Homo sapiens: one gene and its partner. The protein of the gene in region 2 purifies or fractionates together with the protein of the main gene of each other region. This does not show direct contact. Each region holds a gene or a part of one and is shown on either strand. Other genes may lie near its edges.

Evidence for each region. The genes of interacting proteins can lie anywhere in the genome.
Region 1: the proteins of SLC17A6 (region 2) and ORC4 purify together in Homo sapiens (affinity purification with mass spectrometry; one large-scale study listed by BioGRID and IntAct). This does not show direct contact.

The regions. Positions count from the first base shown.
Region 1 is NC_000002.12:147,946,964-147,951,237, reverse strand, and holds part of ORC4 (origin recognition complex subunit 4), read left to right. Parts: intron 1-3,013; coding exon 3,014-3,187; intron 3,188-4,274. UniProt on the Homo sapiens protein: Component of the origin recognition complex (ORC) that binds origins of replication. DNA-binding is ATP-dependent. The specific DNA sequences that define origins of replication have not been identified yet.
Region 2 is NC_000011.10:22,368,417-22,373,464, reverse strand, and holds part of SLC17A6 (vesicular glutamate transporter 2), read right to left. Parts: intron 3,427-5,048; coding exon 3,277-3,426; intron 1-3,276. UniProt on the Homo sapiens protein: Multifunctional transporter that transports L-glutamate as well as multiple ions such as chloride, proton, potassium, sodium and phosphate.

The DNA.
Region 1 (4,274 bases), on a different chromosome or scaffold from region 2:
CACATTTACATGTTCACATCTCCTTTCCTACAACCCTTTTTCTTTTTCAGAAAAGTGAAACTTTTTTCTAATTCATATTTCAACAGTCCTCCTTCCAGTGCTGTTTCTCTATAGAGTGACTGTCATTTGCCCCTCCTTTCCTGTGCTCTAGAGCTTATGATACATGGCTTTAGTATAAACATCCCTCATACATCACTGGCTGGTGCTCCACATATCTTTATTCCTCCTTGCCAAAAGCAGCAGGCGATGACAAGGATCAAAGAAGCATCCTCCTTCTTGCCAAAAAAAAAAAAATCTTCCTTTGGGTGGAAGTGGCTGTGGTGAGTGTTGTTGACCCAATAACGGACCAAATAAAATGCCAGTAACTTCTTAGCAGTGTTATCAGATGTTCTTTTTTATTGTATATATATAATTCTCCAACTGTGTAGTTCTTTCAAGTGTAATTTTTTTTCTTTTTCTTTTTTTTTTTTTTTGAGATGGAGTCTTGCTCTGTCGCCCAGGCTGGAGTACAATGGCATAATCTCGGCTCACTGCAACCTCCACCTTCGGGGTTCAAGCAATTCTCCTGCCTTAGCCTCCCGAGTAGCTGGGATTACAGCCACACACCGCCATGCCTGGCTAATTTTTGTATGTTTAGTAGAGATGGGGTTTCACCATGTTGCCCAGGCTGCTCTCGAACTCCTGACCTCGTGATCTACCCCCCTTGGCCTCCCAAAGTGCTGGGATTACAGGCGTGAGCCACTGCGCCTGGCCTCAAGTATAATTTTATCTGTGTATCCACGTTTATAGGGAGAGAACAAAAGTATAGAGGGAGTAGTGACTTTGCCAGCAAGCATCTTCTTCCCCATTGGGAGTAATTCCATTTTTGTTTTTTGGTTTTGTTTTGTTTTTACTAGTTCCTGTATGCCCACATTGCCAACTTCTGTCATTACTGCCTACTACAAAGACAGTATTTACTTCCATCTCTTTTCATTCCCAAATTTAGGGTCTGAATTGTTGCTTGTATAGATTATTACTTCCACTGTCTACCTATATGGGTGACCTAGAACTCTTTCTTAATAGAAAATAAATGTACAATATCTGAATCTCTGAATATAACCTTTCTTGTCTTTTAGTTCTCATGCTGGCACTATACTTTTCTTTGACCTCATAAAAACATTCAAAATTTTTTATTCACCCTCCCACCTCCTACCTCAGGCTATTAGTCTTTCCTGTCCACCTTCCCAAACTAACCATGATCCCATTTTGATCACTTGAATTCTTTCCTCTATATCATGATTTCTTCACGTAGGTATTATGAGAGTCATCTGGCTAGATGTGGAGATGTATATTTCTGGGCTTAAACTACTCCCCTTTTAAAAATCTTTATAACATTTCAACAATATACATAGGAAAGAATAAATAATGAGCCCTGAATTCCCTTCTCCACTCATTGCCAAGATTCAATTACTACAGACTAATTTTATTTATCCTCAACATCTCCTTTCATTCCTGTATTATTTTGAGGCAAAAACTAGGTATTATATCATTTTATCAGTAAGTATTTTAGAATGTATTTTTAGGAGATAAGAGCTCTTTAAAAATATATTTCCCTAATATAATTGTTATATTAGCTGTAATTCCTTAAAGTCATCAAATATCATGTCACTGTTTTTAAAACAGCTTTATTGAGATGTAATTTATACCATACAACTCACTCATTTAAATTATACAATTAACAGGGTTTTTGTTTATTCATAGAGTTGTGCATTTATCACCACAGTTTAAGAGCCACGTACCTTTTAGTGATCACCCCAAATCCCCTGTTCCCTCCCCAGCCCTATGCAACCACTAATCTGCTAATCCACTTTCTGACTGTTTAGTAATTTTTGAATCATACAACGTATAGTTTTGTGTGACTGGCTTCTTTAACATGTTTTCAGAGTTGATCTGTGTTACAGCATATATCAGCCCTTTATTCCTTTTTATTACCAAATAATATTCTGTTGTGTAGATATACCACACTTTGTTTATCCATTCATCAGTTGATGGACATTTGGGTTGTTTATATTTCTTAAGCTATTAAAAATAATACTGCTGCAAACATTCACATACACTTTTTTTGTGGTTATCTGGTTTCATTTGTCTTGGTTGTATACCTTGGAGTGTAACTTAAGTAATAAATATATATTATACTATACTGTATATATATAGATGTATATATACATATATAATATAAATTATATATATTATATATAATATGCTGTGTACTATAATATATTTTGAAAAATTGCTCAAGTTCATTATTAAAAAGAGATTTAGGAATGACAGTTCCTGCAATATATGTGACTTAGGAAGACAGCTTACCTATTGTGCTTTTGATGTCTTGGATAGTTTGAATGCCTATCAGTTTTGTGGAAGTATTTTCTTCATTTAAGAACACTTCGTATGTCCTTACAAGCAGTACATATTAGTTATCCTTTGGTTTTTAGTGTTCTTTGACAGTAAATTTGATTCCTGATTTCTTTTTAAGGAAAAATAGCACAAATACAAATAGAGTCTAAAAGCATTACTATAAAAAAAAAAAAGCCGGAAGATAACTTACGAATGCCATGTTGCATTTCTGCCACTTTCCTCTCCTAAAGTTGGTTCCTGCTGCCTATCATGCTATTAATTTTTTAATCTCAGTTCTTCATAGAATGTACAGAATTCCTTATTGACACTCTTGGTGTTATTGTGACATATAGCTATTCAATATTGTCAGTTTTTTTAAACAGTCATGTTGGGTCTTGGAATGTTACAGATTAGCTGAGAGTAACATGGTGGGAAAAAGGCATGACATCACCAAGCCAGCAAATGCCTGGAGGTGGATTATTTAGTTTGCATAAAATGTTTTAAATGTTTAATTATGTATTGTAGACTAAACATTACTAATTATAGGTGATAGTTTACTTATACCTCTAACATTGGTACAGTGTTTTTGTTTTTTTAAAAACATTCATCTTCCTTATAGAGATTTCTGTTTGTTTTTAAGGATATTTTGGAACTCTTAGAAAAAAGAGTGAAGTCAAGATTTTCTCACCGGCAGATACACTTAATGAATTCATTTGGTTTTCCACAGTATGTTAAAATATTTAAAGAACAGTTATCTCTACCTGCAGAGTTTCCAGACAAGGTTTTTGCTGAGAAGTGGAATGAAAATGTTCAGGTATCTTAAAAGGCAATAAAGCTAAATGTTCCTTGCTATATGATTTAAAGCAATTAAAACACAAATTTTAGAAATTAGTAAATTAACACAAAGTTTCTAATATTGCTGAAGGATAATGCTGCAGTAATACAAATTATATACTTTTTAAAAATTTTCTTCTTAGACAGTTGAAATGTCATTTCTCCTAAATTCTATCTCAAAAGAACATCACAGTTAAGCTTTAGGATTTATGTTATTAGTTTGAAGTAAACTTTAATGAGGCTTTAGTTTTATCTGTATGTGGTTTATATTTTAGATAATTTTATTTTATATATTTTACATATTTAGCAATAATAATAAATAGTAAATAATGATAAATAAATGTTAATGACTCATACCTATTATGTGTGGATATTTTTTTTCTTCCAGTTTTCATTAGCAACTTCAGCTTTTATTTTGTTGGGCCTTAAGAGGCAGTACAGACTGTGGCACCTCCAGTTATATTATCTAATAGGTGATCACATCTCACAGTCCCTGGAGACTTGAGAGTCTTAGATACAAAGGCAGGTTCATATGTTGTTTTAAAGATTTGCCACACCTTTGAGACTATAAATTTACCTGTGCTTAAAATATTCTCAACACACTAGCATTTTAATCTTACGCTGTCAAAAAGTTTCAGTTGGCAAAGAGAAAGGAGGAAGTATGCATATGTGTGTGTATTTAATAATATAATTGAAAAACATCATTAATGAATAAGTCCCTTATGCTAGAATCTCAAAAAATATTGGCCTCGTGAGAGTGGAAAATAATATAGAGTCCCTGGCTCTGAAGGAATTGGGAAAAACTGATTTATAATGTTAAAATACCGGTAAGGATAATTAGATCTTTGAATAGAATTACACAGTCTATATTCACTGACTCTATAAAAAGGATCATTTTATTTTAAAGCAATAGTGGTAGATTGTATTTTTACCGTGAATTTTTAAATACTAATACTAAATTGGAAGCGTTTTGCATTTAGTTTGTTCTTTAAATGATTATTGTTTGATTATAAAATATAGTCTGCTCATGTAAGCAGTATTTTGACACATTTCATTTTTTTAAAATA
Region 2 (5,048 bases):
ATCATTATTGCTTTTGAGACTAGCATCCTGAGAAAAGTACAAGGCTTTTTATTCTTAATATGGAGTAAATATATTTCAAGCAGTCAATGTGTAGAAAGAAACCTTTGAACAACAACAAAAACATTCTGAAAGACACTATGTTAGGATTTGTATAGAATTACATGGCATATTTTTGGCATTTATAAAGGCAGGCTAAAAGTTTGGGAGTAACCACATTGCCTAAGTCCACATAAACGACTTTCATTCTGACCCAGTATTTAATACATCTGAAAAGTTTTTTAATTGAAAATCCTCTGTTATTTACTATCTATTTGAACAATCATTTTGACTACTTTGGATAAGAAAGGAACAAAGCTATGGTTATTTTTTCACACTTTCAGCAAAGGGTGTGCAAAGCACTATGGAAAATGCAAGGTGCTAAAAATCTACAGGGTTAATGAGATAAGTTTTAGACTATTTTAGCATATTGATTTAACATTTAAGGGTATTGACTCTCCTATTTTCTTAATATGTGGATATACTCTGTATTTGACCTCAAAAGAGCCAAAGAGGTTTCAAGTTTTTGAGCTATTCAGTGGTCTTCTTGGCTTTTGGGGACTTATCATGAGTAATCACTTGACACATGATCAAAATGATCAAAACCTTCCTAAAGATCATTCATGTCAATCACATACAAGTGTGCTTATTATTTTAAGGTTTTGCAAGGCTAGGATAAATGTTTTTGAGCTTATAATTGATTTATTCTTCATAGAAACTCCAGGTAATTAGATTTTTGCCTCATCCTTCTTTTAGCTTTTCTGGGTCATAGTCTAGATCGTATGTCTTCCTATCTGATCCACGTCTTGTTCAGAAATAGCAGCAAAGCACAACCAGCCAACACTGTTCTTCTCCTCCCCTAAATAGGAAGCTCAAAAGGAATGGATGTCTATTCTCATTTGGCTTGCCCCTATAATCTGACCTTTGAAAGTGCTGGTTAATCCTAGCACTGACCCGCTGATATGCCATTTTCAAGGGCCTGAATATGTTACATATAAGCATAGGCTGATATAATATATTAAATTATATATATATATGTGTATGTGTGTATATATATATATACTTGTTTTAAAAAATGAAAAAAGTATTTACCTGATATATATTGTATTAGCCTATGCCAATATATAATGATATATATATGTATATCTCAGTTAACTAATACAATTAACATATAGCTAACTGATATAAAATCTATGTTACAATTTTATTTATATATACAGTGCTGTCTGAACTAAGTCAGTATACTTAGAATGAAGGTTAAGCCATTGCACTCATATTTTTTTCTGTAGGATACCCAATTTAACTAAAGTTGCAGAGAATGACCCTCCATGTAAATATTTTACTTACTTCACCTAAATTTGGCTGCACTTCTTAAATAATATCATTATCATTTAATGGTATTAAGTTAATACCATTATTTAGAGATAAGAAAATTGAAGCCGATAATTATTCAAAACGCTGCCCAAGATTATATACCAATACTTTGTTGTAGAACTTAGATTTGAAGCCATGTCAGTCTAGACCCAAAGCAAATTCCCTATGTTCTCCATCATCTCCTATACAATTTTTTCAGCTAAGTCAGAATTTTTTAAACTAATCTAATTAGTATCTGAAGACCAATCTGTGTGTGTGAATTTATCCACAATTTTATTTAAAAATATAACTAATGAATGAAATAAATCAACCCATCTGCTGGTTGATTTATAATTACTTTTTGCAAAATACCATTGCTTTTACTCAAGCATTCTCAATTAATTGGAGCTACAGGACCAAAATGACCACACAGTTTCATTAACATCAGTTGGCTTCCTCACTCTGCCCCCGAGAACTGGCTTTATTAATAGCCTGTCGGTATCATATTTGTCCTAGATTATGAAAATGGACGCACACCTCCAGCAGCCTTTGTTGAGAAGTATAACACCTCTCAGAGTTCCCAAAGGCTACCCTGGAATGTTTGATCAGCTCTAGAGAGAAGAGCTCTGTCTAAAGCAGCCATTCTTCTCGGGGATGGAGGAAACAGTTTCCTTAGAAACAGGAATTACAAAAGAGCTCTTAGAATAGCTACTCCTAAACTGAGGTTTTCTTCAGTCCCAGGTCTCAGATAGTCTTTCAAGTAGAGATAGAATATGAATAGCGAGCCCAGCTGGACTTATGTAATGACATGAAGAGAGATAGCAAGACCATTGCCAGCACAGACAATGTATTCAGGACTTAGCAAAGGGCTTGGCACAGAGATGGCATTGAGCAGATACTCACTAAATACTTGAATGGATATATGATTTACCTGAATTTGAATGGCATAGTAAAGATAATTAAACAGAAATCAAAGAATCTTTGTCTAAACTTGATTTTGTCGTGCATTACTAGCGTGGCTTTAAGCAATTTAAATGCTTTCTCTAGTTTCTGTTTCCCCATCATTTCAATAGAAATGACGATTGTTGTTCAACAGGTCAAACAACAAAGGTTGTTCATGAATATGAGAGTAGTTTCTAAATTTCGAGTTCCTATATAAAGATAGAGTAGTATTTTTGTGTTCATTTTATCCTCATAGAAAATCTCAAAATGATTATATTCCCATAGCTCTGAACAAATGTCTGTGGAAGTTAGCATGCTGTATTCTAATTGGTAACTTACTTTCACGTTTACACCACCAAGCTGTGAGCATTTTGAGGACAGAAACCATGTTTTTATTTCTGCATCTCACATAAAGTTCTGCACATTGTGTTCAACAAATACTTGTTAAATTAATAGATTGGATGGACAAAATATAAGAGTGTTTTCAGATTTTCTTTTTACAATCCTCATATCTTGTAGCTGGACAAGAGTTCTAAGAGCATTGAAGAATAATTAGATTGGAAATTTGTAAGTAGAATTCTATTTGAATGGAATACTTTTTTTGTTTGTTACATTGTCTGTGAGCTGAGACTTAAAGGGAGTTATGTTTATTTACAGGGAAAAGATTACACCGCTGCTCGCTCCAACTGGGCTCTAAGTTCCATGAAGGCAGAAACTAGGTTTGTTTTGCCTGTATTCTCAGTACCAGAGAGCAATTCTAGCAGACAACAGAATACAGTAGACAATGAAACATTTTACTTTGCTTCTATTTCCTAGCAGTTATTTGTTTAATGAATAAATGAATAATCTCTGAAAATTAGAAGATAAAAATTTTTGCAAATGAATTTAGTATTCACTTAAATACACAGGTAATCCACAATTTATATAAGAATACATTTTACATACCTTGCTAATTTCAAATCCAAAGACTTCCTCAAAATATGCTGGCTGACTAATAAGCAATAAATAAAAAGTCCAGCTTCTGCAGAAGTTTGCAACAATTATTGCATAGACTGGCATGGATGTAAAAAACTTCCTCCATGGAGTCTTGAATTTCTGAAATTCCAAAAAGAGAGACATTATGACCATTTTAAATATTTTCAAACCTAAGTGGGAATAATAGGTGCTTTGCATTTTCAGGATGTATATGACAGGTCATAAGTAGGAAGTAGGAAGATGTAGTGAAGCATTAATTATAACCACCCAGTTAACCTTAGCTACGTAAATAATCATTGGAAGAGAAAAAAAATAAGATCTCAATCACTGCAACTTATTAGATTGTTCCAGCTTTAGGAATATGCAGGATTACATAATTATAGAAAATTGATTCCAAAAGCATAGGTCCTAGTTTCTTAAGGTTTTTTTTTCCATTTGTTTTATTTTTTTAATGGTGATAGACCATATCTCAGCAAAAACTCACTGCCACATCAGTGAGCTTGTGATATCCAAAACATTTCATTTAAAACGTTGAAAATCCAATGTATTCATGAAAAGAAAGATACAAAATCTTAAGAGTACAGTATTCTAGACCCTACCTGAAGTCAATTATTCTACTACCAATCAATCTAAGTCAATTATTCTACTATCAATCAATCATAAATTATCTTGATAGCTAGTAGCTATAACTATAAATTCTGTGACACTGGAGTTCAAGGTTCTATAAAACTCAGAACAGCTGGGTGAAAGCATTTGTCTACCCCCAGCGTACCTTTGGCACATAATTAGTTACTTAAAATATTCAAAGCATTCAACATTAACAACCTAAATATGATCAGCTTTGCATATGACCCCTTTAAAAAATTAAACCTAATTGTACTTAAAGTTTCAGTGTATGCCAAAATGTAAGCAAGTACATATTCTCCCCCAAGACTAATATTTTTAGCCATTAAAATATCTCTCATATTCCCTAATTATTTCTCAATTACTTTATTCTGAACACCAAAATACTGCTTGGTGAGGAAACAGTAGCCTAAAATAACTTTGTTAAAAGTTAACTTGGGATCCTTGACCTAACTAAATTACTGAAAGAGGAAGCAAACACCTTTCACGTGGATTTAACAATTATTCCTGAATGGAAAACCTCATAATTGCTAGTATTGGTTGTGGCTGTAATTAAGCCTTTTAAAGATCACTTTAAATGCAACACAGTAGGAAGTTATGATGTGGTGATCATAAATATATGCAAGACAAAAAAAGAAACAAACAAAAACAAAAATCTGTCCTAATACTATGTAATGAATTCTGTGGCTTTGGATAAAAAATTTTAGTGGCAGTGTCATAAATGGGTTCCAAAAGTACAGTTTTTAAAAAGAAATCAATATGTTCTGGGAAAATAATTCCAGATGCGTACACTTATTTCAAAGATAATAAAAATGTCAGAAGACAGAAATGTCTGCATTATAGTATTATGTTAGCATAAGAAATGACTCCAGAATACTATTAAAAGTAAAAGAACTTTTCCCTGTTGGGCAAAGATCCTTTCATTCATACCAGGATCATCTTTCCTAAGAACTTTATTCTTTACATGGTAAAGTACTTCATCAAAAGCAATAGAAAAATATCTCACCTTATACCTTAAAAAATTGTTGGCGGATTAAAGGGAAGATTATGGTATTCTGATAATGTTCTATTTATTGAACTCCCTGTTTATGTTTAGTTTATAAAAATTAAGCAAGCTG